2 linked regions of the Homo sapiens genome follow. The protein of the gene in region 2 interacts with the protein of the main gene of each other region in a pairwise test. Each region holds a gene or a part of one and is shown on either strand. Other genes may lie near its edges.

Region 1 (17,289 bases), on a different chromosome or scaffold from region 2:
AGATTGCATGCTAAGCAACACTCTATTTACAGTATTTTTAAAAGTTAACAAAAGGAAGAGAGTCTGAGTAATTAGAATGTAGGATAATTAAAATACCTGTATCATTAAATGATGCTATTTCATTGGTGGCAATATACAACAAAATTCAAAAGAAAAAAATACCCTGAAATATTTTTAAATGAATGACTCTGTAAGAAAACAACAAGAAAATAATTCAGAAAAATTAAAACTTAGCAGACATGAAGAATGTTTTCTGAAGCTTAGATTTTCATTCTTGGCTATTATCTTACATATAATAAAGCCTATGCTAACCATTTTAAGAATATACAAACCAAATATCCTTTTCTTGATCAGTATTCTGTGTAGTTTAGCATACCTGTGGGTAGCTGTCAGTCCTTGGCAAAACTGATATATCATAGGTGGCAGCAAAATGGCTTTTCGCTTGTTGTATTTGGCCATAACGTTCCCTTTTTCTCCATTTGGCCCTTCGATTTTGAAACCAAACCTAATTATTTAATAAAAATTAGAATTTTAGCTAAGGAATATTTGATAAAGCAAATGTGATGTTAAAAGACATCAAACAAGAAAGGTAAACCAGGTTAAAAAAATTACGTAAAAAGAAATGTATTTATGTTAGAAAAGGATCCACAGATTTTACTTTTTCTTGTATCTTGATGTGGTAAGTGATTTTCCCATGAGACAAAATAATTTAATAGAAAGAGGCAGGAGACTTTCGGGAAATACATCTGATACGTCTGAGCCTCTGTTTTCTCATTTATGGAAAACAAAAAGCAATTAGATTATATGATCCTGAATACTCCATATATCTCCACATTGTCATGGATAAGTCTCCTTTAAGAGAATGCTGCAAGTCTGGAAGATGTATATGCCGTAACGTAAACTCAGTCAATCTATAAGCAAATTAATATCTGAGTCTATTAAAACTTATCTTTAAAATATATCACAAAAGTGAAAGCTCTTCTCAGTTGTGCTCATACCTACATAATCTTTTAAAATTTTAAACATAAAGATTACACCTAAATATATGGCAGCAGCAGGAACATCATGATTATCTAGAAATAGGAAAAAATGAGATTACATATTATAATAAGCATGACAAGAATTATAGGTAAAAAGGAATCATCTAAAGTTGAACTATGGTTTTAAAATACGTGAATGTGCTTATTACATACATTATGCAACTTATTTTCCCTTATGAAAATGCTCGGATATCTTTACGTAATTTCTCTAATTTAAAGCACAGGTAATGGAAATAATATAAGAAATAGGGCAGATAGAACCAAGTGTCAAGAAAGTCTATCAGTTACTGTGGCAGCTAAGGTCACTAAGCTATCTTCCACAATTTCTCTAATTACCTATTAGAAGTATTTATTATAAGAACCATCTTCCTCAGCAGGTTGGATATTCATTAATTCATACCTGTAATATTCCAATATCTTCACTTTAATATTAAAGGGAGATGCAGAAGATTATATTCAATATATATACTTGGATGTTTTTAAATGAACATTATAGGAGTAGCTTTTGGGAATCTAGTCTTCTTCACACAATTATGTTCAGAATATAAAATATTTAGGAAAAAGGCTAGAAATCAAATATAAAAAATGCAAGTTGTAAAAGCCTTTTGTTGAAGTTTACTTGAAATTTTCACTCTTTTTCATACTCAATTCTAATCTTGTATATCTTTACCTTCACCATTATGGCAACATATTAATACTCAGTTTAATTTTTTAGTACACATTACAAATTTAAGATGGCACTTTGCAGAGTTTTCAGCAATTGAAATGAGCCAGAGAGCTACATGTTCATTATAGTTTTAGTACACTGCTGATAAATGCATATTATCCATTATGCCAAGGCTCAAGACATCAACAACAACAAAAAACAAATCAAATTTTCTTGCTGTCTCCGCAGATGAGCCCCAGGAACACACTAAGGGAATTTAGTAATACGTTTTTGGGTTTTATTTTTTTTTCCATTGACAAAAAGAACTTGACAATTTCCTTAAAATGAGTAATAGTTACCACTCTTATGTGCAAAGCAGGAAAGAGAACGACCTGAGTAAATTAAGTTCAAGTTGGCTCTCTGTGCATGTTCTCAGACAAAAATTAATCAAGACTTGGTGAATGTTAAGGGGAAAAGATGCATTATGTACAGTTGGTCACTCTGTGTGCAAACATATTTGTTTATGGTTACAAGTATAACTAATTTAAATATAGACAAAGACAAAAATCTCAAACTTACACAGCGGGTGTTAATACTCGACAATTCTAAAATTCTTTGTTAGCATGAACTTTCTACATATTTACTTCCTGAACCAAGATAAAGTAACCATTTGCTTCCACAAACTCAAGTAAAAATCTGCTGCTTGTTATCCGTGTGCCACCAGATGTTGTCTCTAATGATGTAAGAGCCTTACAATTTTAAGAAGAAATACCGTTACTCGATTTAGAACAAAAATTTTCACTATTTTATTCATTCCCCCATTTTAGCAGTTTATGGGAATTGCAAAAATCAATACTTTTGTAGAGGAGTCAGAACACACACAAAGACCAAGGCCATTATCCTGAATTATTGTTGCATTTTAAACTCTTACTACTTGGAAACTAGTAAAATATAGTTTAAGAATATCAAATGTAGTCAAAATAAAGTACTCCTAAGAGGTAAAATTTTACCTGGTATGATTTTTCTTTCTCAAATTATTTTTAAAAATTAAGCATATTGGATCATCCAATTTAATAACTAGAATATATCTTATAAACATAATTGAGTATACACAAAAATTTACTTTAAAGCCATTATTTTTATTGCCTATGCAAAATTCATATGATTTATCTAGACTTTAACCATTATAATGGAATATTTACATGTTGACAACTACTAGGACTATAAAATTGTAAATGAGCACTATTTGATCTTGTTTTTAATTATCCATAGTGAAAACATTCCATGGTATACATAACAATTGGGAATTTGTGGGATTGTTTTTTTTTTTATTATGCCTCCAAATCTAGAAATTTCTAGATGTATGGGCTATTATACAAATAATTTACAAATACCTGATATATAATCTAAAAAAGAACCTTAGTGGCTAATAAAACCGAAAAAAAAAAAACAAATAAATATACCAATTACTAAATAGTCATGATTCTGCTTTTCATCCTTTAAAAACTGCTTTTGAAAATCAGAGATATATTATCATATTGTTATGTTTGAATGATTGTTAATTTTTATGTCTCTGTAATAACTTGTGTTCTTTTGTTTTACATATTGCGTGAGTTGTCAAAATTTTTGCAATTAAAAAATAATTTTAGTAGACATATATTCATATATATTACTCCGTTTCTCATCTTCAGCTAGGGAATCAGTTTGTTTCTTTGTGGCAAAATGCACTTATTCAATTATTCTAACACCATTTATTTTCCTATCCCATCCATCAAGGCCTCTTTTTGGCTCCTACCTGGACCCTGGCCTCAGTGAGCTCTGTCCTCAGAGCAAGCTGTTCTCTGACATACACATCCGGGTAATGAGTTTTCTGAAAGACTTTCTCCAGCTCCTCTAGCTGCAAACTGGTGAAGGTGGTTCGGTGCCTCCGTTTCTTACTGCTGGATACATTGCTATCACATTTATCCCCAAGTTCATCCAGCTCTCCCTTCTCTTGCATCCCTTTCACGGGAGACATTCGGAGACTGTTACAGTTGTCCATAGCTCTATTCAGTTCGGTGTGAAGGGGCTGTCCTTCTACTTTAGTGATCCCATAGTTCACTGTACCCAGAGGAGGAAAAACAACAGTTCTCAGGATTGTGAAACTCATCTCAATTAAATCAATAAGTAGAAGTAATTGAGAGTATCAAGAAATTGGCCTATTAATAATTTATTGTGCTAGTATTAATTCAATTACCACATTTCTATACTTAATTCATTGTAGGACAGGTTTAAATACCATTTTAAAATGTGTTCATGCAACTGCTATGATCTGCCAAAATCCGCAGTTCTATTTTACAGGATTTATAAGTTTATGCACATGTTTTTTACTTAAATTCATGTACTCGAATTAAAAGATGATCTGGGTGTTTCATGAAAGAAACTTTAAGTGTCCATGATTTTTGAAAACTGAAGCAAATTTAATGTCATGTGTTTTATTCACAGCAGATAAAACCAAGCTACTAATGTGGCTCAGAAAATATATTTTAATCTTAAATAATACCTCTGTACTAATATCTGAAAGTTATTATCCTCCTCCACGTAAAACGTACTGATGATAGATTTCAGATGTGACATTATTTCCACTAAATTTTGAATATTTCAACTTTATATCCATGTCTGCATTTACACTTTTTCTTCAAAAATAATCTACTAAATTGACAAAATAAATTTCATGCCAAATTTTGAATACGCTTTCTATCGGAAATTAGATTTAAGCAGCATTTTTTTTTTTTACCTAAAAACTTACGCAGTTCTTTTTAAAACATTTCATATTTCTGCTTAGCTAGTTAGATAAGTTTTGGGATTGAAAACTTTTCTATTTTCTCTGCTGAAACACAGAAATTAAAACAGCTATTAAAACATTACAGAGCATGACATCTGGCATTCTGTTAAGGGATGTTTAATTTCAGTAATTTTCTTCAGATTTGATTGCATGCTTGCAGTGTGATATAAAACAAAGATATATCATATAATGCCAAACACCCACAAATGCAATGGATGCACATAGTGAAATGGGAAGCACTTTTTAAAAAGTAAAGTCAAACCAGCCAGAATAATAATTTCCAATAGATGATCATACTTTTTTCATTTGTTTCTTTTTTTAAAATTACCCCCATAATGTATTTTTACAACTCTTTTCATCATTATACAAATATATTCAAGTTTAATGCGCATATAACTTCAATAGCTAATAATTGAGTACTGTGCATTTCAATGTCACTAACGGAGTAACTCTCAAAAATGTTCTCATAATAAAAAATGTCAAATATTTGAGGTGATGGCCAATTAACGTAATTTAATCATTCCACATTGCATTAAAAAAACTTAACATTACTTTGTACCCCATAAATATATACAACTATAATTTGTCTATATATATATATAACAAATTTTTTAAATTAACGGTTTTCATGCAAACGAAGATGTGATGTTAAACCAAATATAAAGAAGAGCCATGACTGATTAACAAACGGTTCTATCTCCTTGGGCAAAATTAAAGGGGGAACTGCAGCAATTAGGGATGGGGGAGGGGAAGCATCAGAGAGGCTAAGGGCATCTCAAGAGAAAGACAGGATCTCTCCTAAATTAAGCGGATGACTGCCTATGTTCATCTTCCTTAACACTTCTTTGTTATAATTCATCTTAATAGTGTGATATTTGTTTAAAAGTTGATAACGCATCAATTATGTCTCTTATTTTGGATTCTCGACTATTCAAAATAAAATATTATGATCAAGTCCATCCAGAGTCAATACAAGACATTGCAGAATCATTAAAGAAAGACCTGTCAATTCAAATAACGTTAGGCATGCACCTAAGAATTCCACAAATACAGATACCAGGTCTGAAACGCAGCCAGAAAACCAACAACTCAGTGTAAGAATAACAAAAAGTATACGCTCGAATCTTTCTAAATAAATGACTGAAACGACTTAGCTGATTATTTTCTCTATCATTTGCACCTTTATTTTTGATTTACCCTTAGTCAAAAGTTACTTGCAACGTTAAATAAAATTAGTTAAATATGAGATTAATAAAAGAAAAAAACTTGTGTTCAAAATATTTAGAAAATGAGCTTCTACAGGCCAGTGTTTTGTCAGATTTTGAATTTCTATAAAATAGGGGGCAGGGGGCTTGTTGTAAATATTTCACACTTAATTCGTTTGTTATTTTAAAGCAACCCGCCCCTTATAGCTTAACTGTGGAATATATACAATGATAAGGAGAAGTTCTCTTGGAATTGTAAACGTGCTTTAGCTGTCGCGATCTGAAATAATAGGTTAGTATTAGGTTACAAGATAGAAAAGATAGATGGTTTGTTTTGATAACATTTTGACTTGGAGATACTTGGGCATTCAAAGTTGAAGATTTCACCCAGAAGCATTCCAAAGACTCCTTAGGTGACTTTTAATGTGAAGTCATAAAAATACAAAACGTAGAATCTGGGAATGAGTGATTAGGCCGGGGATGGTTTGCCCGAAGCTATTTAGTGTGCTTTAGTGTTTAACAAACATTCAACGCGTGTTGTATTGCAAACGCAAAAAAAAGCAGAAATTACAAATTCACACACGCTAGAAATCTAGGGATCCTCAAACTTTGAAAATATATCGCCACGTCTTGGAAAATTAAAAAGATTTATCTTTACCTAAAGGAGCTCAAAGGGTTTTTTGTTTTTTGTTTTTGTTTTCCGGTTTTTTTTTCCCTACTCGTGACGACAGTGACGTACTCTAACGAGCTGTGATCGATTTCAGTTCCTACCGCCCGGACTGCAAGGCGGGCTCGCAGAGGAAGCGTTCTGTCTTGACTCAATTACGCTCTATTTAGCGCCCTATCAGTTTACTCCAGGAACCAATATTACAGAAGGACTCAGGGATCCGTAGGCGACCAGACCCTACAGCGAAAGGAGAATCGCTCAGAGGCAACCCGGTGCTGGATCTCTCCCTCCCTCCGCCCTCCGCCCCCAAAGGCTGCAGCAGCAGTAACACCGCTTCATAAAGCGAGCACCTTCCACTACCTTCCTCCACCTTCCAGGTCCCTCGCTCCCACTTTTCTCCTTTCTCCCTCCCTGCCTGATCAGACCGATCCTGCATTTTCGATTGCGGAAGGGCTGCGGCGGCTCCGGCTGGGGCGCTAGCGACTCACCGCTGCTGTCCTGACAGGGCGAGGTCCTCTCCAAGCGCACGTGATGCTCGGCGCGGGGCAGGGGTCCGAAGGCCTGCACGCATTTGCCTGCAGACGCTTTGCTGTAAAAGGACTCATTGTCCAGCGTCTCCATAACGTGCTCCAGAGGACCTCCTGCGCCCATGTAAAAGTCACTGTTTTTACTCGGAGGGCTCTTGAGGGCAAACTTCTCGCTCAGAAACTCCATAATCCTGGAAGACTGTCGCGTAGCTCCTGGGGCACAGAAACTGGAGAGCGCTGGGGGAGGGAGCCAGTGGGTGGGAGGAGGGAGGGCCAGAGAGGAGGGAAGGGAAAGCGAGCGCTGCGGCGTCGGGAACTGCCCCGCTCCGGTCCCTTTAATACGTCCCGGCTGGAAAAGGAGCACCCGAAGTTGCTTTTATATCTTGAAACTCAGCTGGCCTCCTCGGGCAGCCTCCCAGTTCTAATGAATATGAAAATAGGCGGGCGACTAACTCCACCCCAGGTCCCCCTCCGCCCCTACCCCACCCCCATTTTCCCCACTTACCCGGGCAGAGGGCGTCCAGGCCTAGGATAGACAGACAGACAGCTCCATTTCAGACAAATGCCAGGAGAGACGAGCCCCTGACACCCAGATTCATTGCCGCCGTGACAGTGGACTGGCATTTCGGAAGATCTTGGTGAGATCGCAAAGCAGTTAAACCTCCACTCCCTACTGCCTGCGCCTTCCTGAGCCACCCGTCCCCACCCCGCCCCCATGCCGGCCACTCACTACCAGAAAGATTTAGAGGCGTCTTAAGAACTTGAAAGGAAATATTGCTCTAAAAGGCTTTTATTTCATCCGTAAATCGTTTACGTGGAAGATTCACATTAATCCGAAGCCCAAGGAACCAGATGCATTGGCAACTGTTAATCGCAGCCGCCGTAGTAGAGGGGCCGCTTCGGCTTCTAACCGGGAGGAGCTCGGGGTCCGGGCCAGCTGGGAGCTTTACGAGGCCGTGGCCTTTTCTTTTTCTCTGGAATGCGGCGGAGTGTGGACGCGGTGGCGATGGGTGGGAGAGAGAAGCCGAGCAAGAGGCAATGAAGCCATTATACTAATGCCAACCAATTCCCTACACCCTCTTCGCCACCCTTCCCTTTGGTCCACGATTTTATCATTAGACCCAAATTATTTTAAGAAAACCCGTTAGGATCAGTGCCTTTGAAAGGCTTTTACTCTAATGCCAAAGTGAGGATTGTTACAAATAGGGGTTTATGAAGAAGAGGAATGTCTGCATATTTTTACAGAAATTACTTTTAATTTTAAAGAGTTGCTGTGGAGTTACTCCGAAAAGCGCTCTGGGAGTGAGTGGTGAGCGCGCGGAGCTGCGGGCACTCGCGGCGCGGCGTCCTGGGCGCGGACAGGTCCAAGGCCTCCATTTCCACCAGAGGGGATGGTAGGGCAGGCAGGACAGCACTGCTAGGTTGAAAGCCCTTCTGTGTGACTTTTGGCACGACTCTTGGCTTCCTAGGAGCCCGCGGCGCTTGGGGGAAATGCGTTCGGTGCCCTGGGCACAAAATCGCATTTGCGTCAGGCACCCTAAGCTAGCAAATTTGGTGAAAATAAGCCAGACAGGTTTTGGTCCAGGTAGGCCTCTGCTTAGACGTCCTGACACAGCCTTTGTCAACACTGGCACTCACAGCGGCCGTCGCGTTTCCCCAGACAAGTCTGGCAATTATGGTGAGGCCTCGGGCAGGCCGAGCAGCCCGGACTCTGAGGATGGTGAGGCCAAGCCCAGCTGTGGTGGGCATGCTGATGGGTTTGAGAGTTTCCACCTTCTGCGGGGGTCTTAGCTGACCCACGCCTCTTTGGTGAGACCTTCTTCGAGACCTGACCAGGCCTCAGCCAGAGAGTAACAATCAGGGAGGGCTGTGCACCCCGGAGCTGCTCCTTAGCGTTGCGCGAAAGGCAGGGTCGGCCTTAAGCACCCAGATCCGACCGGCGGATCCCGAGCAGATCAGCTGGCAGCAGCAGCCTTGCTCGCCCGGCCAAAGTCCAACCCAGACTGTTCTCCCAAGGAGGCGCACAAGCTTAGTTCACATGGCGCAGCGCTCAGTGTGGCCTTGAGCGCGCACTCAGATTCAGGCAAGTGGACACTATTCCTGGGACTAACTAGCTTCTGCTGTATTATTATTACTCTCTCCAGAGCAGTGCTGCAAGAACCAACTGCAGATTGTTAAATTTCAGGGGAGCAAGGTCAAAGAAAAGCACTAGGGACTGAGCTTCAGCAGGAAGCCAGGCTGCGTCGGGCCGCAGGAACTCCAAACCAGACAACCTGGCATTCTGAGGTCAGGCCCAGGGGGAGAGAGTGAGGTGTCGGAAGAAGCCATTGAAACGCTCTTCTTAAAGTGTCCTGTAGCATCCCGACCTTGCGTGAGCAGTAGCCTCAGCTCTGCGTTCTTTGGACACTTTCCAGCGGGCCCCCGGGCAGCCTTGTGGAAACGTTGAGTGTTGCGTTATTCACTCACTCCTGTTGGGTTAGCCATTTTCGATTCTTTCCTATCCCCTTCGGTACCTTCTTATTTTCAGGTATCCTGAAAGTCTGACTTTCTCTACTAAACACGGGAAAGATAAGAAAATGGTCGTTTAATATGTTTTACAAAAATTCACAGCAGCAACAACAACACCTATTGCTGACTTGAGGAAATATACAAACTAGTTATCAACCAAGTTATCTTGTAGAGCTCTGTCAGCTTGTTTATAAATATATGTCTTAAAAGCCCTAAATTTCCGGAAAAACATTACGTGTCTTTTAAATGAAAGACATGTGATACAAGTTCTAGGATACTTGTATGCCAATAAAGGTCCAACTCATAGAGAAAAGTACAGCGTAGCCAAGGACAAGAGCTGTCTAGTAAACCCGTTTCTGCCCCATTACCAAAACTCACTTTTGATGGTAATGGTTGAAGGGGTGGGGTGTAAGGTGTCACCAAACCAACATAATATCCCTGGAGCTCCCTGGAAACTCAAATATACTACACAGAATCCCGTGTGTTTTGTGACATGTAACCACATGTGCCCATAACAGAGGAAACAGCTAATGGCAAACTCCCATAACGAATGTTTAATCTGCAGTTTTTGGCAAGAAGCTGGGTATTTGGTTGCCAACAGCTGCATTACATGAATTTTGAGAGGTTGAGATGGAGTTTATGGTTATGACACAGCTCTAGAGATAGGGGCATTAATAATACATTGAAAATAATACTAATCAAAACAATAATAATTCAATAATTTCTAAAAGTCACAAGAAGGGAGAAGAAATTACATTGGAGATGGTCTCACTTTCCCTGAGATCTACCTGGGCTTTTTCCACCAATGCTTTTAGGATAGCCTTCTTGGAAATTGGCCACAGTACTTTGATAAATGCTTTCAGCCGTCCAGATCCAGCTTGGCTCCTACCACCACAGCTTTTAAAAGTCCTCCTCAATTCCAGCAAGTCAGCTTGGCCCAGGCCTCAGGGGCAAGTGTGTTCTGAGGGGTAATCAGCTCGCCATATACATATATATATATACACACACATACATATACATATATATATACATATATATATGTATATATATATGTATATATATATGATCCAGTTTATTAGGTCAGGTTCTAGTTGGGGTTTTATCTCCTGGGGCCTCAGCCCATCAACCCCAGGCATCAGTTTTCTTCTTTACCCACTTATTTTGCCTTTGAGAGTATTGTTCATCTTTTTCCATATTCAGGATATAAACCCAGGATTCAGCTTTCCTTCTTTTATGTCAGTCAAGATATCTAACTAGAATAAGCTGCTGTGCATCCTTTTCTGATTTACTTCCTTCAGATCTGAACTTTCTCGATGGGCACTAACACTTGCAGGAAGTGGTGGGGTGAGAGAGGAGGTAGGAGAGCAACAGAGGTGGGGAGTCATTGATTTCTTTTAAAACCTAACAGAATTTAGGACATCCTAGGATTTCAGCACTTTTGGATCTTCACTGCGTATTGATGCTTCTTCACATCTTCTTGATGGGGATGAGGAGCAGTGCCTGTGGGTGAGGTGTAGGGCGGGGATCAGGAGGAATAATGAGGGTTAACAAGGCTATTACAGATTCAAGTCTCAGCCTCTCTGAAAAACTTTCTCCTCTAGTAATTGAGATGTGTTGGAGCAAACTTGATCATTCCTCTGGCACCATGGGATCCTAACAGAGAGGGGGAAGCTATTTTGTGAAGATAAAGATGACTGATGCTACCATTTGAAGTGACATCTAATATTATTCCTGCGACCAGTTTGTTGTTGTTGTTAGGTGGCAGCTCTCCCAAACAGTGATTTGGGATATTTTTAAAGTATTTTTTTTTTAGTTCCCATTTAGAGCCTAGAATTAAAATAATCAAAGAAGTTAAAATTATTAGAAAGTCCATTGAAATGAGTATTTGACCCTCCCCCACCCCCAAAGTAGTGCTTTATTAGAAAGTAAAATTCAGATAAAGGATTCGCAGGTTAAGGCATCTTGACTCATTTTACTAAAAAAGAAAAAAAAAACCTCACAGACTAAAAGCTGCTTTTAAAGCCAGTCATCCCTTTGAAAATATGTTTTGGGAAATGAAAAAAATATTTACATATGCAGCATTAAAGCAGTGGTAGAATAAATGTATAGACCACTCTAGTTTCTTCTGATTTCGACTTATTGAGAGAAATGTCACACTTACATACTAATAGTGGGAATGTCAAGATAGGATTGCTAGGATTTTAGTCTTAGCACTTCCTTTTTGCAGTGAGAGTTTGAGGCTTATTGTAAGTAGAGCAAGGAAAAAAATGTGTGCTGAATCAGGCGAACTATGCCAAATGTAGAAGAGCAATGGTCTGAAGAGGGGAGGAGCTGGTGGAGAGAAACTTTCATGAAAAAGTACTAAAATAATTGAATGTCATGTAGCATGGCAAGATGCCAGGTGGCCTCGTGTTTTTGTGTGCTCTGCTGCTGTTTTCCCTCCCTGCCTTCATCTTCAGCCTTCCCACAGCTCTGCAGACATAACAGATACTGAAATATATTTTGCATCAAAGCAGCTCAAGAGGTTTTCATCAAAATAAAAATATTTGGACACACAAAGAAATATTTAGGCTTTTCTTTAAAATATATGCCCAATCCACCATCATCTACTCCAGAAAACACACCTACAGACAAAAGTGTAACTTTGTGAGATTTTTGAAGTTTCTGCCTTTAAAAAAAATTACACAGATGTTAATCAATGTTGTAAGTCTTTAAAGTATGCTGCTGCAAAGCTGTCCAGTATGATGAATTAAATTTTTACACTTATTGTAATAATATTATTAAATGTTTTGGTGTTTCATAAACTTCTGTTTTTTCAAAAAGTGATACTTGTTTCTGAATACCAATGTGTTTCAATAATAGTTTTTCACACAGTTGTGTTTTCTTAAAAGAGAGAGAAATAAACTTCTGTTCTCCTAAAGGATCCAATTTAAATGTAAAAATACAGTATGACTCCTTGACCTTGGTGCAAATATCTTGATTTATCTAGCATATGTGTGCACATTACAATAGACATTGTTTGCTTTTACTATAAAATGTATTTTATTCCAAACTTTAAAAATAATTTATCTGCAATAATCTAGTCACCTTTATTTCTTTCTATGGCTGTCGTCATTTTTCCAGGAAGTTCTGAACATAATAAAGACCGTTAACGCTAGACTTCCTCTATGACACATATAGAAGTGCATAAGTAAGTTAAACTGTATTCAATTCATAGACTGGTATTTCACTATTAAACTATTAATCATGTCTCTAAAACGTTTTTCCACTATTTTGTTTGATAAGTGAATTGTTAAACTTCTACTCGATATATTTAAATACATTTTTTTCCTGCTGAGTTACTAGGTATGTCTGAAAGACAGGGCTGCTTATTTTCAAAAAGATGTGCGTGCGTATTCACTCCTTGAGCTTTCCCATTTCAGGGAAAGACTTCCTTAAAGAAAAATCTCAGTAAAGATAACTGAGACAAAATCATGGATATTTCTCCTTTGGACTGGAATTATGCAACGTAAATGTGAAGTCCGTGGTCATTAATCAAACCCGACCAGAGTATAGCCAATATACAAAATCAAAGAGAGTCGAAGGAGTGAAGTAGATTGGCCTCCCGTAAGTTCTCCACCTACTGTGCCCCTTCCGTGCCCATTGATACCTTTTATATCAGGACAAGAGGCTAGGGTTTGGACCCCAAGGTGTTGAGCTTAGAATGCATCTCATTGTGGCCATGAAAACGTCTCGAAATCTAGCTTATCCTCTGTCATGGTGTTTTATAAGTTCAACAGAAAGAGGAAAAACACAAACACATTTATTACATCAAGGATTATTCAGAGAGAAAAAAAGAGGGAGGAGAGAGCGCCAGCCCCTTTATTTCGAAAATCATCAAAGAACTTTAGAGAAAGGTAAAGATTAATATTCACTCCTTTTTTCCTCCCAACCTGTCTTGCCTATCCCGAGCAACACAGATTTCTGAAGCGAATTTTGATGAGTTTTAAATACTATCTGTCGTAATGAGAGTTTCGGAACAAAAAGCTCTCTGTGGCTCGCAAAAGGGAAGCCGAGCTTGTGGGACACCCCTCCTAGGGGTGCAGGACCAAGGGCTGCAAGCGGTGTCCCCGATCGCGCTGAACCACTTCCCAAAGCCTGCGCCCTCGCCCAGAGACAGCTGTAGACAGACATCTCGTTAGCCCTTTCTGATCAGGAACTGTGAACAGGTTGTGTGCGCAGCAAATTTTTGGAGGCAAATTGGTGCACCCCATTGCCTGGGTGGACCGCCGCTTGGTGCGCACCTCGGTGAAGGACCACCTTCCTGGCTCCCGGCCTGGAGGGAGCCATGAGCGACTGCCGTGCGGGACGTCTGGAATGAGGACCGGCTCTCCACTTCAACCAAGTGGGCGAAGTCCCTTACAATCAAGAACAACTCTGTGGTTAAACGCGCATAGGTGGAGGAGTCTCTATTCTGAGCAAAGAGAATGAAGTTTCGCTTCTCATGGAAACTTAAAAGAGCCTCGACGACGAATATGGAAAGGAGTTAGTGGTTAACCGATTTGATGCTAACATTTCATCAGTTGTGTTTTCACCCCTTTAAAGTTTAACCCTTGGAAAAACAGCATATTTTAAGCTTTCCCTCCAAATATTGATGTTGGCAGATGGATCATCTAGCCGTCCCTTGGTAAGGACAGTGCCCTTTTTGTTTCACATGTTGGCAATCAGAATTAATCCATATCACAAAATGCGGCAGATTTCGACTTTAGTCAAGAGACATGTAACTCTCTGACAGTAAAAAGAGCACGCCTGCACACACACACAAACTTGGGGGGACAAATTGGGGGTGGGGGGAGCGCCCGAAAGTAGCTCATACCTCACTTTTAACTACCTGTCCTCAACAAGTAATGATCCACTCCCCCGATTTAAAAAAAAAAAAAAAAAGCCAGGTTTCAGCCTGACTGCCAATATTTTCAATGCCAGGCCACGGTAATGTCTCTTCTTAAGATCTTGTTCCACACAGTAAAAAATTCTTAACCTTTACTGGATATTTTATGTCCTTTTTATTAAACAAAGTTGATGCATTACCTCTAGCAGGGTGGCGCCCTGGGCATCCGAAGACCTCTGTTGAAAAGCCTCAGAGACCTCATGGGATTACATCATCTTTCAGTTTCCAACATCAGATGCCCCCAAATGGACCCTCGTTATAAAATCCTAAAAAAATTAAACACTTTCTTACCTTCACACTTGCTCTCTCAGTTCACAAAACTTCATGAACGCACAATTTATTAATACAGTTCAAATATAATAAGCAATTAAAATGTTTCCTGCCATTCCACTAAACAAGTATTTTTAAGTTACCAAAAGAAAAAAAAAAGGCTTTAAAGAATACATTTATTTCCATTTCTTTGTGAGGTTTCAAACACTTTTTGCAATATTAAAATTACTATAAACTAAGTATTTAAAAAGGACTTGTTTTGGGTTCATTTCTGATTAATATTCTTGAAATTTTTTATTTTACACTGTATTTGATTCATATATGCTATTTTTGGGGAGAGGTACACAGCCACTCTTTTGCCACATTAGGAATTGCTTAATAATTGAATTGAGTTGAATTAAGCAAAATCTAAATAACCAATTACTCTGTTTTGAGTAGAAATGCCCTTTAATCTTGCATTCTTTTTTAGGTTAATAAAACTTTGAATATTTAGCTTAAAACTTAAAAAGAAACATAAATATTGGCAAATAAACTAAAGAAACTTTACTAATTTTTGCTTTTATGAAATAAAGTAGATCTATATGTACTGTTTCATTTAAGGTATATTAGCTTCTTTGGGCATCTCTAACTACTGGATCACAGTTGAGGCAAACCATATAGGATATAAAAGTGTCTCTATGGTACGTCATGCAACTATTTAGTTCTAGAGGTGAACACCATGGAATCCTGTAAATCACTTTAAAAAATTTCTTCAGGTATCATCCATTAAAGGTGTACCTTTATCCAATATTTTCACCAAAAACTTAAATATATATATTTTGTACTTACTGTGTTTTACAAATTATGCATTCCTAGGTTGGCCATCTAAATCTTTAGAATACCACAACAATTGGGATGCAGATATTTTGGGCAAAGGTAGCATGATAGGATTAAATTAATGGATGCAAACCCAAAATTGCAAATTAAAGTTAAAAAATATAGAGAAGAAAAACAAAGCTTATGGGGTTCAAACAATAAAGCTCTGAGGATATTTTTGAGTCTACAGCATGACTTAGTTGCTAAGGAAGCTTAAAAAATTAGCTTATATTACATTAACAGAAATGAAGCAGTCACACATCAAGGAAGACCAGATCTTCAAAATACACTGAAATACGAAGAAATCTAGAGAATTAAGAAGAGCTCTGGAAACTATTTTTATAGAGAAAGAATAATAATATGAAGCTATTTTGTGTACTGTGGCTGAGGCAAAAAGGATTTGTAAACCACATCATATTAAAGCATGGTTGTAAGAAAGACTTAGTGAATTTTAGCTAAGACATAAGAAAGAGTGATTAAATTTGTTCAGTTTTGCCCCAGTGGTGGAACTAAGTGGATTGACTTGAGTTAGAATTTTTTTTTTCATGTAAAAGACTAACTTTCTAACATTGAAAATTCCCTATAACTAAAGTGGCTGATTCTCAAAATTTCACATTCAGTTGCACTGAACAACGTGTGTTACAGGGTTAAACCTGTCATGCAAGTCTCTTTCAAATCAAAGCTTCCAAATGACATCTTTAATGCTCACAATAGTTTACATATCTGAAGTTTGTTCACAAATATGTTATAGTACTACTATTTCTTAAATTAGGATTAATTTTCTCTAAGAGGAAGAAAATAACTTCTTATATTTTGCCTTAAGCTGAAATTAAAGACTAAACTTAGAACACGAGTGTCTTCCGTCAAATAACTATTGTATCATTCTAGCCTATGTTTTCATTATACAGATAAGCAAGTTTGGCTAACTGGTTACACACTTGTATCATAATTTGTATTTATGCATATCTATTTCATCTATAACACCAAAAATGTAATAATGTAGAGACTACTTTCAGACTCACTGGGGTTACGTCCAGCTCTACCACTCGCTGGCTGTGGGATGCTGAGATTCTGATTCAATGTTATCTTCTATCAAATGAAGGCTATTTATCTCCAAGGGTAGGAGTAAATATAAAGAAAGTTAATGTATCTAAAGCATTTAGAACAGTGCCTGGTCATAAAATAAGCACTATGTGTTTGTTGTTGTTATATATTTTAAAATTCAGATTGTGAGATCATTTACTAAGGATTATGGACATAGAAAAAATAATTAACAAATGGTGCTGTGCAATGAAAAGTGACTTAAAAAGCAGAAACAGATTCAACTATTTACATTAAGAATATGAAGTATATAATTATGATTGTTAGAAGATGGAAAGAAAGAAAATGGATCACATACGAGAAATAAATTTCTGTGAAGTTGCTAGGTCCTGGGGTGTGTGTACTGCATTAAGGTAAGTGTGTTTACCCCAAAGTACTATTCAGGTAGGCTATAAACATAGGTATTGCCTCTAACATAAATTTTCCATGATTTTTGTGACTCAGGAGATGGGGATCCTACTCCTAACTCTGTCATTAACAATCTGTATAACCTAAAACAAGTACAGTTACCTTTTAAAATCTCAGCTTCTCCTGTTAAAATATTCCAATTGTAAGACTATGTATTTTTAAAAGTTTATTAGAAATATAATTCTTATTGATTAAACTATATGGTCTCTAAGATGCTGCTATGAGTGGACATGATCCTCCAAAATTCATTATGGTGAAACTCTAATCCTCCATGTGATGGTACTTGGAGATGGGGCCTTTAGGAGGTAATA
Region 2 (15,775 bases):
TTTCCTTCCCTTTCCTTTCTTTTTTAAACAAAATAGATCTAAGGAGCCAGGGAAGGAGGACTCAATGACTTAAGAAACTGATGATTACGAGAGCTATTTGAATAAATAAGAGAATAATAACTTTTCTTTTGCATGGAAGCCTTCTCAGACCCAAAAGTGTCCATCCACCTTCTGCAGTCTGTGGAATCTGTGTTCAGTTTTAGAATAATTGTGACTAATTTACAAAAGATCATTACAATTCTAGGAAATCTGATTATTGTTTGTCTGGAAAAATAATTGACAGACTCTTGATGTCTTTAAAAGTTTAGCCTTATTTGATTCTCAGCCTTATTAGATTATTGGGTCACTTACATTTCACTGGACTCTGGCTAAAGCACAGGGTGACATTCACAGAGTCCGTTTGGCCCTTTTTGCTTTGGCTCTAGAAGAGCTGCCCCCTTAAACTCTGTGATTAGGAAGAGACTCTCAGAGGAGAAGTTCTTCTGTCTAGCTCTAGTCACTGCATCAATTTGTCAAGAGACTTACCATGTCTCCCTTGGGTCTGCACAATGAGAATCCAGAAATGAGCCGGGGGATCTCATTACAAGCAGATCACACTAGGAATATTGAGCAAGCTTTGGTCTCACATGGCCTGCTACTTATGTTTCTTCAGGGAAAAAAGTAGCTCAACTCAGTTGAAGATATGTTGTCACATGGCACCATCTTTTCTTCTTTTGAATCCCTGTTAGTGTTTGGTCCTTGGTTAGTTACTGTCAGTGAGAATACATTCGTGTAAAAGTCAGATATGGTGTCTCTCTTTGTATATAGAAAGAGCTTACATCATTTCTCCTGCTAGCAGAGGCCATGCATTGGTTTTGTTAGGTAAAAATTAGTTTTGGGGGTAGGAACTGAAAATGGAGCATGAGTGCTCATTTTGATTTGTCAGAATATAAAAAGAAGTTAGGGCAGGTGATTACATTTTAGATCATCATCCTCCTCATAATTACAGCTAACAATCACTGAGCACTTGCACTGTGCCAGAACAGGGACTGAGTAGGTGTTTTGTATGCATTGTCATACTGAATCCTCATAGGATCCCCATAAGGATACTGAGAGAAGCTGTTGCAACAGCTGGAGCTCTAGATGAAGTATTTGTCTTTGACATCTCACCCCAGGCACAGCTGTGTGAACCCCTCATAGATTATGGGCTTCAGTGAAATATGTCAATAACATTAGATTAGCTTTGCTTCTGGATCCTGTGGTTGAATGTGACATGATGCAGATGCCTTTACCAGTGCCCGAACTCGACGGTGGTCTCTTGAGGTATCTCCCATGTTAAACTCAGAAAAGTGGCCACAGCCAGCCAGATGAAAAGGAGATAGAAAATTCTGGAATACAAATGGAGTTTAGTTTATATGATAATCAGCTATTTAGTCTTGACAAGATAAGGATTAAAGACAATTCAGGTCATGTTTCATTTTTTCTTCTGTCATTTGAATGGTCTTGGACACCTATTATTTCTAAACAATGCAAAGTCTCATGAATACCTAAAAAGTCTCCACATTGCATTCCAAATGTGACTATACATTGATCCTATCCAGTGCAGATAAAATATTTTTTTTAAATTTCCACTTCAACTCAAGTTTTAGCTAAGGCATATCCCAAGCTAAGGGGCCTCATTGCTTTAATCTCAGAGCTCCACCCAGAGTCTCCCACACAAAACTCACAGAAAACTACCTGCAAGCCTTCTCATCCAGGAAAATTATTTATGGACTTCTGTTAAAACCAGTCCTGAAGCTATGTGGCTAAATGCTCTTACCTGTTTTTCTGTAGTCAAAAATAAGAATCAGATCGTTACTTGTATAAGATAGAGACTCAAAAATTGCTTTTCTTATTAGAGATGACTCCTGGTTTTAGCAACTTATTGTACATCTTGTGTACTACTTGTCCCCTAGTATCTAACAGCCTTAGTGGCAAGTATGGGAAAGGGCGTGATTATCTCTGTAATTATTAAATCACTACACAACTATGTTCCTGGGTTATTGCACCTCCAAATCCTTCCATTTTCTTTATAGATTCTGAATTATTCAAGTAGTTTCCTCTGTGACTTTTGCTGATTTCTTTGTTGTGACAACAACTGTATCTGAGAAAAATGCCGAGATGACGTTACCAGAAATTCCATCTTTATTAGTCTGTTTTCATGCTGCTATAAAGACCTGCCCAAGACAGGGTAATGTATAAAAGAAAGAGATTTAATTGACTCACAGTTCCACAGTGCTGGGGAGCCTTCAGGAAACTTACAACTATGGAGAAATGGAAGCAAACATGTCCTTCTTCACATGGTGGCAGGAAGGAGGATCGTGGAGCAAGGGGGGAAAAGTCCCATATAAAGCCATCAGGTCTTGTGAGAACTCACTCACTATCATGAGAACAGCACGAGGGTAACCGCCCCCATGATTCAATCACCTCCCACTGGGTCCCTCCCACGACACATGGGGAGTATGGGAACTACAATTTAAGATGAGATTTGGGTCAGGACACAGCCAAACCATATCACCATCTCTATTATAAATTATGTTAAAATGGACTGTCTTCAGTTTTGAATGAGCCATCAATATGATAGATATTAATGATAAAAATAATATACACAGATTCACTCAAATAAAGAATTCATGAAGGAAATGATTAAGAACCATCTCTACAACTCTTCTACCTTTTGGCTAGAACAAGGTGCCCAAAGAAGACAGAATGTGGAGATAGGAAGGAACTTTTCCAAAGAACTTCTTTGCAGAGAGCTGCTGTTTTGCTGTTGTTGCTGCTTTGAGGGAGTATTAGGTTATGTTATTTGTATCTTGAGAAGATTATTATTTTTTACTTCTTTACCCAACCTCAAGCCTAATGTGGGGGCTTCTGTGGAATCACTGCGGAAGCTTGAAATATCCCTCTTGCTATTGGGAGACTCAAAGGACTTGAGAAAGCTGCAACCACTGTGTAAATAGGAAAGAGTTGTCTATATTAAGACCATCTGAGACTTCTAGAATTTATAGGGACAAGAGATGTATAAGTGCTTCTTTTGGCTGAAATACAGACAACATAGAAGAAAGAGCTTACATGCAGTCATTTTGGATTCTGTTCAAAAGAGCCATTTTAAGAGGCAGAGGGTTCACAAGAACAAGAAACCTGTCACAAACACTGTATCCTGAGATCTATGCAAGTAGTTGCAAATGATCACCAAGAATAAATAATACCTTTAACTTAGGGGAAAGTGAGAGGTGGACTATGATATCAACCTGAGATAGAAGAAAGCTTAAACATGTGAGAGATGGATTACAGTACAGCCTGATTATTGTTAGGAGAAACCCACATGTAGTTAACACAGATTTATTAGAATGTAAATTCTAAAATAGCAAGCACCATGATTGTTTTATTCAATATTATATTTTCAGTACCTGGCATTGCCTGGCGTATTTTTGAGAAGTTGCTCAATAAATAGTTGAATGAATGGATTATATCACTTGGAAGTACACTGGTTTCATTTCTAAAATTGTCTTGGGTTCCTAGGCAAAGGGGTTGTTAAACCAAAACACAGTGTTAGTGAACATGATAGAAATATCTGTTATGCAAGAATAGATAGACCTTTCTAGTACTCACAGTACAAGTTTATGGAAAGGTCGTTAATATTGAGAAAGCGTAAAGCAAGCCTTAACTCATGAGCTGTCAATCAGAAATTAATAATTTCTCATATTGCTAAAATCCCTGTCTACCTAACCAACTCAATGTTCTAAGTAAGTTCTACTTGTCTTAGTCCATTTTGTGTTGCTATAAAAGAATACCTGAGACTCAGTGATATATAAAGAAAAGAGGTTTATCTGGCTCATCGCTCTGCAGGCTGAGAAGTTAAAGATCATGCCTCTGGCTTCTGGTGAGGGCTTTTGTGTTGTGTCAAAACATGGTGGAGAAATTCAAAGGCGAAGTGAACATGTGCGAAGAGAACAAAATCTAAGGGACATCCTGGCTTTATAACAGCTACATCTGGCAAGAACTAATCTGATCCCACAAGAGTTAATGCACTCTCATAAGAGTGAGAACTCACTCATTACCGTAAGAACAGCACCAAAACATTCATGAGGGACCCACCCCCATAGCCCAAATGCCTTTCACTAGGACTCACCTTCCAACAACACCATATTGGGAATAAAATTTCAAGATGACGTGTGGTGGCGGCAAACAAACCATATCCAAACCATCATACCACCTCACCAGAAATGAGGTTGAAATGTTCTTATGAAGCCCCTGCTGCTCCATTTAAGTACTTCAGCAAATCTTCCCAGGTTCTGTCTGCTCTCCTCTGCTTCCACCCCATTGTCCCATTATGGAGTTTCCAGATTCTATCCTACTTCTTCATATCTGGTGACTGCCTCTGTTCATTCTGGCCAAATGGCCTCATGAGTTTGAAATCATGACATTGGTTACCATCCTGAAGCTTCTGGATGCTATCTTTCTGATTCCACTGACTACATGCTCTACTTATTATCAGTGAGAAAAGCCTGTCTTATTTCCCATATATGTAGCTCAAACTCCCTCTGGGATCCTTGCTTCTCTGGGAATGCAACTTATATCTGTTGACGATGTGCCAGGCACTGTGTTCCATGCTTTTCATAACCATAAAAATAACTACTAGTAATAGCATCTGACAATTATTTTTCAGTGTGATAGTTAGGATGTGGCTTGCTCTGCTAAGAGTTGTATCTGAAATGTACATGGAAAGTCCATTTCAGAGAGTATTCTGTGTATACTCTCTGTGTACATTTCAGAGAGAGTAACTGGGACCAGGTTATAGAGGGCAATGTCATATTTAGAGGTTTAAATCATGTCCTGTAAGAAGTGTGAATCCATGGAAGAATTTTAGACAGCATATTCATGTGAGCAATATTCAGAGTATAATATTTTTTGATGACATCAAGAGAACATTATGAAAATCAAGCATTGTACAGTCCTACTGAGGTTTTTGAGACATAAAGTTATGTTTGTCTTCATACAAAATGATCCCAGTCTCATACTTTTTTGGTTTTCATTCTGACTTCTTCTAGTTTTATTCTTCCTGTCTTATTACTTGCTGTCAGGTTCTCAACTATTGCTTACTTATATCATTATAGTTGTCTACCTGATGCAACCTCAGACCCCTTTTTGATCGATTTGTAGCTGGAAAAACAAATAGGAGAATTGTGATTACAATTCCACACATATTTTGAATCGTCATTAAAATGATTGTTAGTAGCTTTTAAGTATTGCCACTGTTGTGCTCATTGAGTGCTCTGGCTTTGTGATATATCTTTCTAGTTACTTACAGGTTTTCCTCCCCGTACTTGGCAATTGGAGTTTTCAGGATAATGAAACACCAATTACCAATGAAACACCAATTAGTAGATAGATAAGTAGTAGACATAAGATAAAGATATGGGACTATGACAAGCACTAAACAAATGCAGGTAGCATAATACAATATATATTTTTTTAATTAGGCAGACATACAGATAGGAAATTCAAAGAAGAAAGAGCTGCAGATGTAAGATCTAGTATCCAGTTGCTTTGACCAGATCTCTTAGACAGTCATTTCATTTTCAAGTGCTCTCGTTGAGTCAAGACCTCAGACCCACACCAAGGGTTTGATGATGACATATCCTCTGATTTCATAGTTCAGAGCCTGCCAGTCCAGGATATTGGCAGGGAGAGGGGTACCCTGATAGGCAGACAGGATATTTTCTGGGGGCAGCACAGAGTCCCACATGTACAAATCCCCAATCTCTCCCACAAAGGACTGGCTCCTATCAAACTTGCCCCCATAGGAATCCTGTTCCTGCCCCAGGACAATCTTGGGCTGAGCTTCTACAAAGTAACCCTGTCGCAGACCCTTTTTCACCAAAGGTGTCCCATTGATCCAAAATTCAGCAATACCTGATGAGGACTCCCAGCTCACACAGATGTGCACTGGAGCCGGGAACTTTTCGATAACTTTGGATGTAACTTTGTGTCTTCCAATGTATAGACTATACTCTCCAACTCTTTCTTTATAAACTAGTAGCTCATTATCCCTGCCTTGGGTATTGTAGGAGAAGAGGCTGTAGGCACGAGAGAGATCACTATAGGCTCGAAAACACAAGGTAAAGTTCTGTAGAGGCTTCTCCAGCGGTGTGATCAAGTTTACATGATCAGTAACAGATTCTCTAGGAAATACAAACACCTTCCCACTGAGGTCTGCGGGATAAAGAAAGAAAGATAATGACCTTCAGTATAAATGCAGGGAAAAGATATCTCAGCTTCAACCTATTTTCTCACTTTATGATTCTTGACCATTCCTTCACCTCCTTACCTGTGTGAGCAAAGGCTTCCAGGAGGCTGGTGAGGACAGAGATCCAAAGCAGCGGCTTGTTCATATTCCTGGCCTAGGGCTGTTATAGCAGAAGCAGTGACCAGGATGAGGGTAGCAGACAACACAGTGGCTGTCCCCCTAGCGTCTGATATTCATGCCCTTAGACTTCAGGTTATTCAGGGTTTATATGCACCTTGGGTGAGGATGGGGGAGGAAGAGCACCAATAATATGTGAGTGATTTTCCAGGTCTGCCTCCTGGCGCTTACGGTGAAGGAGTGGTGAGCCCTGAGCTGGAAAATCAATGGGAGTTATTTATTAGAGACAAGTGATGGCTAGAGCTCCAACTCCTGTGACCCAGATTTTATTGCTGGGAAGAGAGTCATTGCAGGGCAGCAGGGTTATGGATGGGATGAGGCGCTGGGCTGGCCATGTCAGCAGAGCCTCTCTCTGCTCTCTGGGCCCCCTCTCTGATGGCTCTGTGCTCTGCCAGAAGCTCCTGAGCCACACAGAGTGTATCGCTGAGCTCAGCCCTCTTGTGGGCTATGGGAACAAGGCCTTTTCTTTCTTTTATAGTTCTCAAGTTGTCTTGTATTTGTAGGATATTCTAGGATTCTGCTTTCTGCTGAAGACCCTAAAAAGTGCCTTCAACTTTGACTAATTCAACATCAAGTAATACATCCAGGCAAAGCTAAGGGGAAAGAGGGACTTGGAGAATAAACTTTCTGTCCCCATGAAGCTTAGTATTTTTCTGCTACTTCTACTCAGTGCTTTTTTTTCGTTTGCATATCATGGTGCTTCCTTATCCTAGATCTTTCCATTTCTCATTACGACTTGTTTTCTGGTTACTTCATGCTACCTGCAGAGATGTCAGCATCTCCCCAAGTTTTTCTCTCCTCTTCTTTGAGTCCTTGGTCATTGAGTGTATATCTAATCCATCTTTGGTGATGACCCCACTAATACATTTATTCACTAGCTCTCAGTTACTACACTAGGTGCTGGGGATTCAGTGGTCACTGGCTCTCTCACAGCCCCAGAGATCTCCACCTTCATTCTTTCTATGTCTCCTTCATTCTCTCTCTGTACAGTTTATTAACCACCACTCAAACCTTCTCTGCCTCTGAGATATCAAACTGAAGTTCTTCTTTCTAGCCACATTATTTCTTTCTCTCTCATCCCTGAATTATATGGTGTCTTGTTTCTCATCCTACTGTTTAGCCTCTTGTTCACTCTCTCTTCTGTTAGCTCACCACAGACCTAATCAGCCTTTTCAATGACACAATCACTGCCACCAAGAATACACTTTCTCTATCATTGTTCAAAGTATCCTTCCTATTCTCATCCCTGGGGAGTTTCCATTCTCTACTTTTTTTCTCTAAATGGAATCCCAGGTTGTGAAGCCTTATCTGGCTTGTTGCACAGTATAGGTTAGTGATAAAGTTGGGATTATGCATCTATTGACTCCTGAATTAAATACAGACCATTTGCTTGGAAGCCAATGCCATTTGCAATCTGGCTCTAACCTGGCTATTATCTCAGAATCTAATCCTATTCTCCAGTCAAACACCTCTAATTGTTGTTCTTTATACCTTCCTGGCTTTCTTGATTTCATTACTTCTATTCAGTGCCTTCATACTGTCTTGAATTTCTCTCTTATTTTCTTTTCCTGTTTCTAGGAATTCCAGCCATTCTTCCACATTAATCTCAAGCTTATTTAGGTGATGGTTATAGTAAAAGCCCAGACTTCACTATTATGTTATTGCTGTCTATGTAATAAAACTAAACTTGTATGCCTTGAATTTATACAAAAATATAAAAAATAAAAAACAATCTGCTTCATGAAGACTTTTCTAATATCCCAACTATACATTATTTCCCCTCTTTCGTACTTCCCATAAGGTTAAGATCAAAGACTTTGGGATAGAATTCCAATGTTGCCATTTACTAGTGGCTGACTATTCTGCAAGTCACTAAACCCCTCTGAACCTTAGTTTCCTTCTCTGTGAAACAAAGATAAAACTATCTACCTCACAGTGTTTCTCTAAGGATAAATGAGATACTATGATATACATAAAGTACATGGAACAGTATCTGGATGGTTATTATTACCATCATTTTAGAGCCTTTATGGCTGTTACCACTATCTGTCTCATATTATAGATATTATTGTATTTATCTTGAATCCCTTCTAGACTGAATCTGGGTATTAGGACTTATTTATATTTAGATCATTGGTTTCATCTAACAATTTTTCTTACACATGAAAAGAAACTGTTACATATTGTGGAATCAAAGGACTCAACTTTGTGTGAGGATTTTTTTTTTTTTACAAGAAACAGTTTATTAGCAACAAAAAGTAGAATACAATTGAATAATATGATAAGGTAATACTGGAAGTAGGAGCAGGAAGGTAACATTTCTTGAGAACCCAGGGACTATGCAATTCCCTAACATTTCCAGATGTTAATTAATAAGTGCCATAAAACTCAGAGAACACAGGGCTTACCAGATGCTTCTAGTTTTCTTCATAAATAAATAAATAATCATTATCTTAACAAAAAATGGTTTGCAAATTAATATCAAAGAGAGTCTTCTCTAATGGGAGATAAGCCTAGGGAACAGGTCTTGGGGATAAGTGACACAGCCTTAGACTCATGGTGGGAGAGCTTGGAGATAACGGCTTTAGATAGCTGTTGGGGCCAAGTGCAAGGGTTTGCAGTTGAATATGAAAATGTTGTGTTATACACTGTGAAAAGGAAACCCTGGTTGGAAGGTAGGGTCTACAGTATAATTGGAAAAGGGAGAAAAAGTGGAGTCTGATTCTGTTGTCTAGTTTCCTTCCCCAGAATATGCTTCTCAGGCCTTGGAAGAGAACAGCCTGCACTTCAAGAGTTGTCAAAGAGGAAACTGAGAATTATTTTTATTGTAGAAAGGAAAAGTTCTGATGTCAGGATGTAGGAAAATGAATCCTGGGTCTTCAGAACTGGGTGCAATCCTCACAGTGAGCCAATCCTCACTGTTGCTGGATCCTCCTGGGTGCCATCCTGCCAGTGAAAGTTCAGGTCAAGGTGGCGGCTCCTGTCTGGATGGCTATGGAAGAGTTGAGGCTGGGGGAAGAAAAGATACAGTATGCTGAAGAGAAACAGGTCCACCTGTGTGCCACAAACAGAGTTGTCTTGGCTACATTAATTGGCATGCAACAAAGTTTACCCTCAGAGAGCATAGTGGAAGAAGGCATCAGCAGTAGCAGAAAGAGGATCTGACTCGGAGCTTCAAAAAAGCAGAAGTATGAGATATAACTGGAGATCACCTGAGGGATTAAAGAATAACCTAAAGATGGTTTCTGAGACCTCAGGTGTTTGTAGAAGACATTAAGTCACAGTAACCAATGGGAAAGACTGGATAGGAAGAGACTGAGTAGAACAAGATTTGTGTTCAGTAAAGAATTATTTGCTGTGTGTTCTGTCAGTTGTAAGGGAATTTGAGAGCATTTAGATGGAAAGAGGCAATGGAGGCATGCATCAAGAGTAACTGATTATCACTCTGATATGTGGTTGGATAAAACCAAAGATACACAACTTAGACTGATGGCAGGGTCTTATTGTAAGTGCAAAAAAGGACAAAGATGAGAATTAAAAATATATATATAGAATATGGAACCATATTTCTTACTGCAAATCATGTGGAAAAAAAATATGGTGCTGCCAGTACAGATAGGACAATTGAGAGGATGTTCACTTGGAGGAGGTGGAGGGTAGGTGGTAAACTTGGTTCCTCAAATGCTAAATTTGAAATGATAGTATGACTTATGTGTAAGAAAGGTCTTGGAGAATTTGTAATATGTGACGGCCACTTGGAATTAGAAATACAGGTTTCAGAGAAATCAACATATAAATGATAATGAAACAAAAATGAATTTTGTCTTTCAGTGGAAAAGAGAAGAGAGGAAAGGTCAGGGAGCCAACCACTGACTTGAGGAAACATTCACATTCATGGTGTTAGAGGCAAGATAAGAATGGCAGGTGGGGAGGGAGGTGGGAGACAAAAAATTATGTTTGGCAGAGAGGATAGCGTGTGGTGTCATGGAAACCAAGTCAGTGTAAGTGTCCAGGAAGCAGTATCCAGTGGTATTAAATGCATCAGAGAGATCTAAGTTGAATGCATGCTGGATTTAGCAATAAAAACTTCAGTCGTAACCTTTGAAAGAGTAATTTTCATAAAGTGAGCATGTCAGAAGCCAAGTTTCAGGGAATGATGGAGGGAGAAAGAGGAAGGGAGTTTGTTTCCTAAGGTTCAGTAATTCTGACAAAGAACAAAAGGAGAGAAACAAGATTCTCCACAGGAGACTTGGGATTCAATGCATATTTCCCACACAGTTTATAGATTGTCTCTTCTTGACAGAGTGGCTATCATGTCTTTGTTGCCTACCTAATAACATTTCAGCCAACAACAGAGAAAAATCAGTGTCCACCTGAGATTATGACTGACCTTTCTACCAAAGTAGCTCTTTCAGACTCTAAATGCCAGGCTCAGGCTGCTGTGAACTCCTAACTCCCCTTCACAATTCTGGCAGCTTCACAAATTTGTCAGTCACTTTCCAGGTCATGCTGATACACAAGAGTCTTTTCTTGATCTCATTTCTCTGTTCCTAATTTCAGGGTTCATTTATAAAAGAAAATCTCTGCTAAGTTTTTTTTTATCTTCTACTTTTAGGTTTAGTGAGACACCTCGACCATATTACCTCACTGAAATCTCACTTTTAAGTTCAGAATTCACCTGAAACTGCTCTCTGGAATGTCACCATATCTGTATCTTAGTCTTTATCTTTCTTGACATCCCTTCACTCTTACACTTCTTTTTGAACAACCCATCTTTATAGTTTTATAAAATATAGATTTCATTGCTGAGATTAATGTTTATTCATTTTTTAAATATAAATTTTTAAATAAAATTTACCATTCAGACTCCCACTGGCCACAACCATCTTCATGCTGTTCACAATCCCTTCATAATACCTGAGTCTTCTGGGAGGAGATGTGCAAAGAAGAAAAATGTAACAGCAGGGACTCAGTGTAACTCTGTATCTTGAGTATGTTTAAAAGTTCCCTTCTCTGTGTCTAGGAATATATTTTCCAGTCCACAGTGATAGAGAATACATGCACTGAAGATGCAGAAGCAGATTCCTTGCTCGTGCAGCTACAAGAGGTCTTGGCTAGAGCTGTCTTGCGCTACTCTTGTCATCTTGTCAACTATGCCATGTTTCTGCTCATGACAGAAACATGGCAGCACAAGAGTTTTCTTATGCTGATCTATTTTATTGTTATCCCTAAAACTTCAAAATACAAAGAAAGAACCTCACAGAAGCTGACAAAGTTCACCTTGCTGGTTGTCTCCAGCTTCTGTGAATGATGTCATCCACATCTTAACTTCAGCAGGGAATGCCATCATCTTGAGTCTCACCCACATTGGTCATGTATGTTTTCCTGAGAGTGTTGGTTAGTTCAGTGACTTTATACACTCATCCTTATTCTACAATACTTTCTAGTCTCATAGCTCAGAACCAGGAGATTTTCTTGGTCTTTGTCATTTTTTTTTTAATTTCTGGGTTCTTTCTTTCTTTTTTAAAAAAATTTATTTAAGATTTAAAACAATTTTTATGAGTATGTAGTAGGTGTATATATTTATGGGCATGCACTGTGAAATAAGCATATCATAGAGAATGGGGTATTCATCCCCTCAAGCATTTATCTTTTGAATTACAAATAATGATCTTTGCCATCTTGACCACCATTGACTGCTGTGTATTTGTCTGGGAATTCCTGGAGTGCACAGTCTTTGTGAATAAGAGGGCATGTGCCCAGCTGGCGTGTGGTGCCTTTTGCATTGGCCTGATCATGACAGTGGTCTAAATAACCACAGTGTCACAGAGGTACAAAAGGAGCACATATGCTATTTAGACTGCTTCTTGTTTGACACCCTTCTTGTCATGAAACTCTCCTGCATTGACAATACTATCTATGAAATAAACAGTATTTTATTCACCACACATGTGTGCAGGTGTCCATGGGTTTGGTTTGCATTTCCTATATTGACATCCCTGTTACCTCCATCGTGCTTAGAATTTCCTAATCTGAGGTCTTTGCCACCTGTGTCCCCCAACCCCCACCTCATCATGGTCATTGTCTATATGTCTGTGCTTGTACTGCTTACCTCAAGCACAAGCCAATGAATTCAATAGAAAACAGGTCTTCTATAAGAGACCTACATTATCATCATTCATTCTGCCTCTGGACACTGTTGTTTACACTCTGAGGTACATGGAGGCCAAGGATACCATGTACAGAGCTGTGGACAGAAATATTTCTTAACAGATTGACTCATTTCATCAGGAGACCTTTAGTCCAGGGCAATGTTTTTCCTGCTCATAAACATTTTTCATCTCATAAGAAGACCAAATAGAAAGTTCTGTTGTGAATTGGTTCAAACACTTAGACTGCTTTTCTACTTCTAGAAAGAAGGCAGAATCTAGGATTTCTGCTCAGGGTGCACATTACTGCAGAGGCGAGTGGCACTCCAGGAGCATTTTGATGACTTATTTTTATGTGTGAGCGAGTTGATTGAAAATCCTCCTAGCTCCCACTTTACCTGGCCATTTGGTGCTTGACTTTTGTCTTTGAGTGGAGCAGAACTACTGATGATAATGGCAGCAGTGACTTCAGTTAAAGAATCCCAGGGACCACCTGAGACTTTCTGCAGCTCCGTGATTTCAGCTTTATGACCCTTAATTGACATTTCAAAAAGGCTTTCCTTACCATGTGCTGATTGAAAAATAAATAGTTTAGCAAAGAGAGGTCCTTCTTTCCATGAATTTGTCCCCACTGGCCACTTAAATAGTGTGTGTTTAGGTGAAGTACCCTTTACTTCTGTGGGAGGAAACAAAGACTTTTTAAAACCACATTATTGCTGCAGCCCCAGAAGCTGAGAAGAAAGAGAACAGATGGGTGGCTCTTCTCAAAGAATGGTGCCTTCATCTGGATTTCCTCTTCTTAAACATTTATCTTCTTGTTCCTTGAAGGCTTTTAGGAATTATTAATTCCACAGTGGCTGCATGGTAACTGTTGATTAGTGGTGGCTTATTTTGGGTAAGTGGATTTGGTTGTTCTTCTCTAAGCGTGGACCACAATTTTCAATCATTTAAAACTCCAAGTACTGATTTTCCCTTTTTCTGGGTGGGTGAGAGGTAGTGGGATAAGCGGCTTAAAGTTTATTTTTGTGTTTCCTAGTAGAATTTTTCTTCTGAATTGTTCTTCTCTGCTCATATCTTACACTTTTTCCTGGTGAGTAGTTACATGTGTAATTAAGAAAATTGTCATGTATATCCACTGTGAGACAGAGCTACAAGGTACTTTCCCAAAGCCCAGGTATAGTAGTATCTATTTCATACACTACTATATTTCAGGAATAAGTGACTCATTATTAGTTCAGCCCGAGGTAAACTCTTTCCATTTTCTGTCTTATACTTTTGCTATATATATTTTTGTAACCACAGAAGCAGGCCTGAGGCACATTTTTGGTCACTTGTGATCTTCTCTCCCTCCAACAGACTGCTGGAGGTCGAGGGCCCCAGGTATAGTGGGTGCCCTTTTCTCTCATTTGGTGGAACTGTGTATGTTAATAGGTGAAATCAATGCCTCAGTGATAATCAGCACATTTTGTGCCTTCGGGGTGATTCTGAAGCTGAAGTTCCTAGGTCCCTAGGGGGTTCTTGAATGAGTTTCAGTAGGTTTGTAAACTCTCTGAAATTGTGTGCAAAATATTGCAAATGTTTTTTTTCACCAGATTTTCAAAGAAGTCTCTGATCTACCAAAGGTAAGAATCTATTGTTCTGGAATAGAGTTTTGCAAAACTGTTTTGACAAAAAATTACAGTAAGAGGTTTTGTATTGCAACAGTATATGTCTACATGAATACACATATAAATATATCTTAATCAAAATTATCATAAAACAACACAAAAGCTTATGTCAAATCCTGAACTGTTTGAGAAATGATAAGGAGTGCTGTGAGATAGAGAGGTGGGACTAGAGGAGAGAATGATAGAAAATGTATTTGAAGAGGCTAGGCTCCATCAGTGGTGATAATGGTAGGGGCCACCACCATCATCATAATCATCATCATTGGCTACTCTACTCTCTTCTCTTCTACTCCATCCAAACAAGATTGATTGCTTTTTCATCTCTTCTTTCATAGAACTTTGCAAATACCTTCAATATTTTAGTTTGTATTATGGTGTTATTTCCTGTTTTAAAAACATATCTTTTTTTCAATGGAAAATGTTGTCATATTTTCACTCAAAATATAAATGCTGAGTATTGATAAGGCATTTATATTTTGTCTAAGCCAGATAAAGCCTTTACCTTTAAGAAGCTCAGGGTCTCAAGAGAGCAACTAACATGTAAAAAAAAATGCAGATATTGGGGTAGGTGCACAACTAGGTAGGTGATGGTGGTAGAGTGGTAGGTGTTACAAGCCTTTCAGTCAATTTCCAGAGACTTTAAATGATTGCTTCGATAATTCTGATGAGTTGAAAAGATGTCTGTTCAAAAGAAGGTTTTTGCTGAGCTCCTCATGTTACTATTCCCTGAGTTTTTGTGTTTTCATTTTGTGATTTCGCTAATATCCTTTTTATCATTATAATTTCTTTCAATAAATACATCTAGCCACTCTTGAAGTATCAAGTACTGGATCCAGCACTAAGGATGCAGAGATAAATCCTACTTAGTCGGTTTTGGGACGGTAATAATGTAATTACTCTCCCTCACATGGCAGCAAAATAGGAGCAGTAAAGGTTACATTACAGGGAGCTGCTTACAGTTAATGAAGGATTCTAACTATCACTGTGGAGGTGGAAAGCTGCCTACAGGTGGGCTTTGTGCAGGAGGCAACATTTGATTGGGAGCTGAAAAGATGAGTGAAAGTCTGCTTTGTGACAAGGAAAAAAGGAGCATTGCAGACAGTTGGAGAGTTCAGGAAGCCAATGTGCAAGCCAGTTGTGTTCAGGGCTGTTTAGAAAATGCAGAAATTATAGAATATTTTAAAGTATATGAACGCTTTGGATTTTATTCTTGTTGCTGTGAGCATATTTTTGAAGGGTTTTAGACAGAGGAGAGAAGTGATGAGAAGTACACATAAAATAAACGACTGTGACATGAATAAGACAAGTCAAATGCACTAAATAAGAGGCTGTATTACAACTTACAAGATTTCAATCCACCCCAAATTATCTCATACATTCTTTACTCAAGTGCTTGTTTCTAGGACATACCATGACCACTCACACCTTTGTACCCTTCACATTCCACTTTCTTTGTCAAAACCTGTAAGTGAAGGACAGGGATGGTAAATCTCAGGTTTCTGTTTTGGGCAACC

Evidence for each region.
Region 1: the proteins of APCS (region 2) and ALX1 interact in binary tests that used the Homo sapiens proteins (3 or more experiments, as listed by UniProt).

What each region holds. Positions count from the first base shown.
Region 1 is NC_000012.12:85,270,069-85,287,357, reverse strand, and holds the start of ALX1 (ALX homeobox protein 1), read right to left. Parts: upstream 7,139-17,289; 5' UTR 7,097-7,138; coding exon 6,871-7,096; intron 3,787-6,870; coding exon 3,482-3,786; intron 506-3,481; coding exon 377-505; intron 1-376. UniProt on the Homo sapiens protein: Sequence-specific DNA-binding transcription factor that binds palindromic sequences within promoters and may activate or repress the transcription of a subset of genes.
Region 2 is NC_000001.11:159,578,560-159,594,334, reverse strand, and holds APCS (serum amyloid P-component precursor), read right to left. Parts: upstream 6,510-15,775; 5' UTR 6,414-6,509; coding exon 6,350-6,413; intron 6,235-6,349; coding exon 5,627-6,234; 3' UTR 5,470-5,626; downstream 1-5,469. UniProt on the Homo sapiens protein: Can interact with DNA and histones and may scavenge nuclear material released from damaged circulating cells. May also function as a calcium-dependent lectin.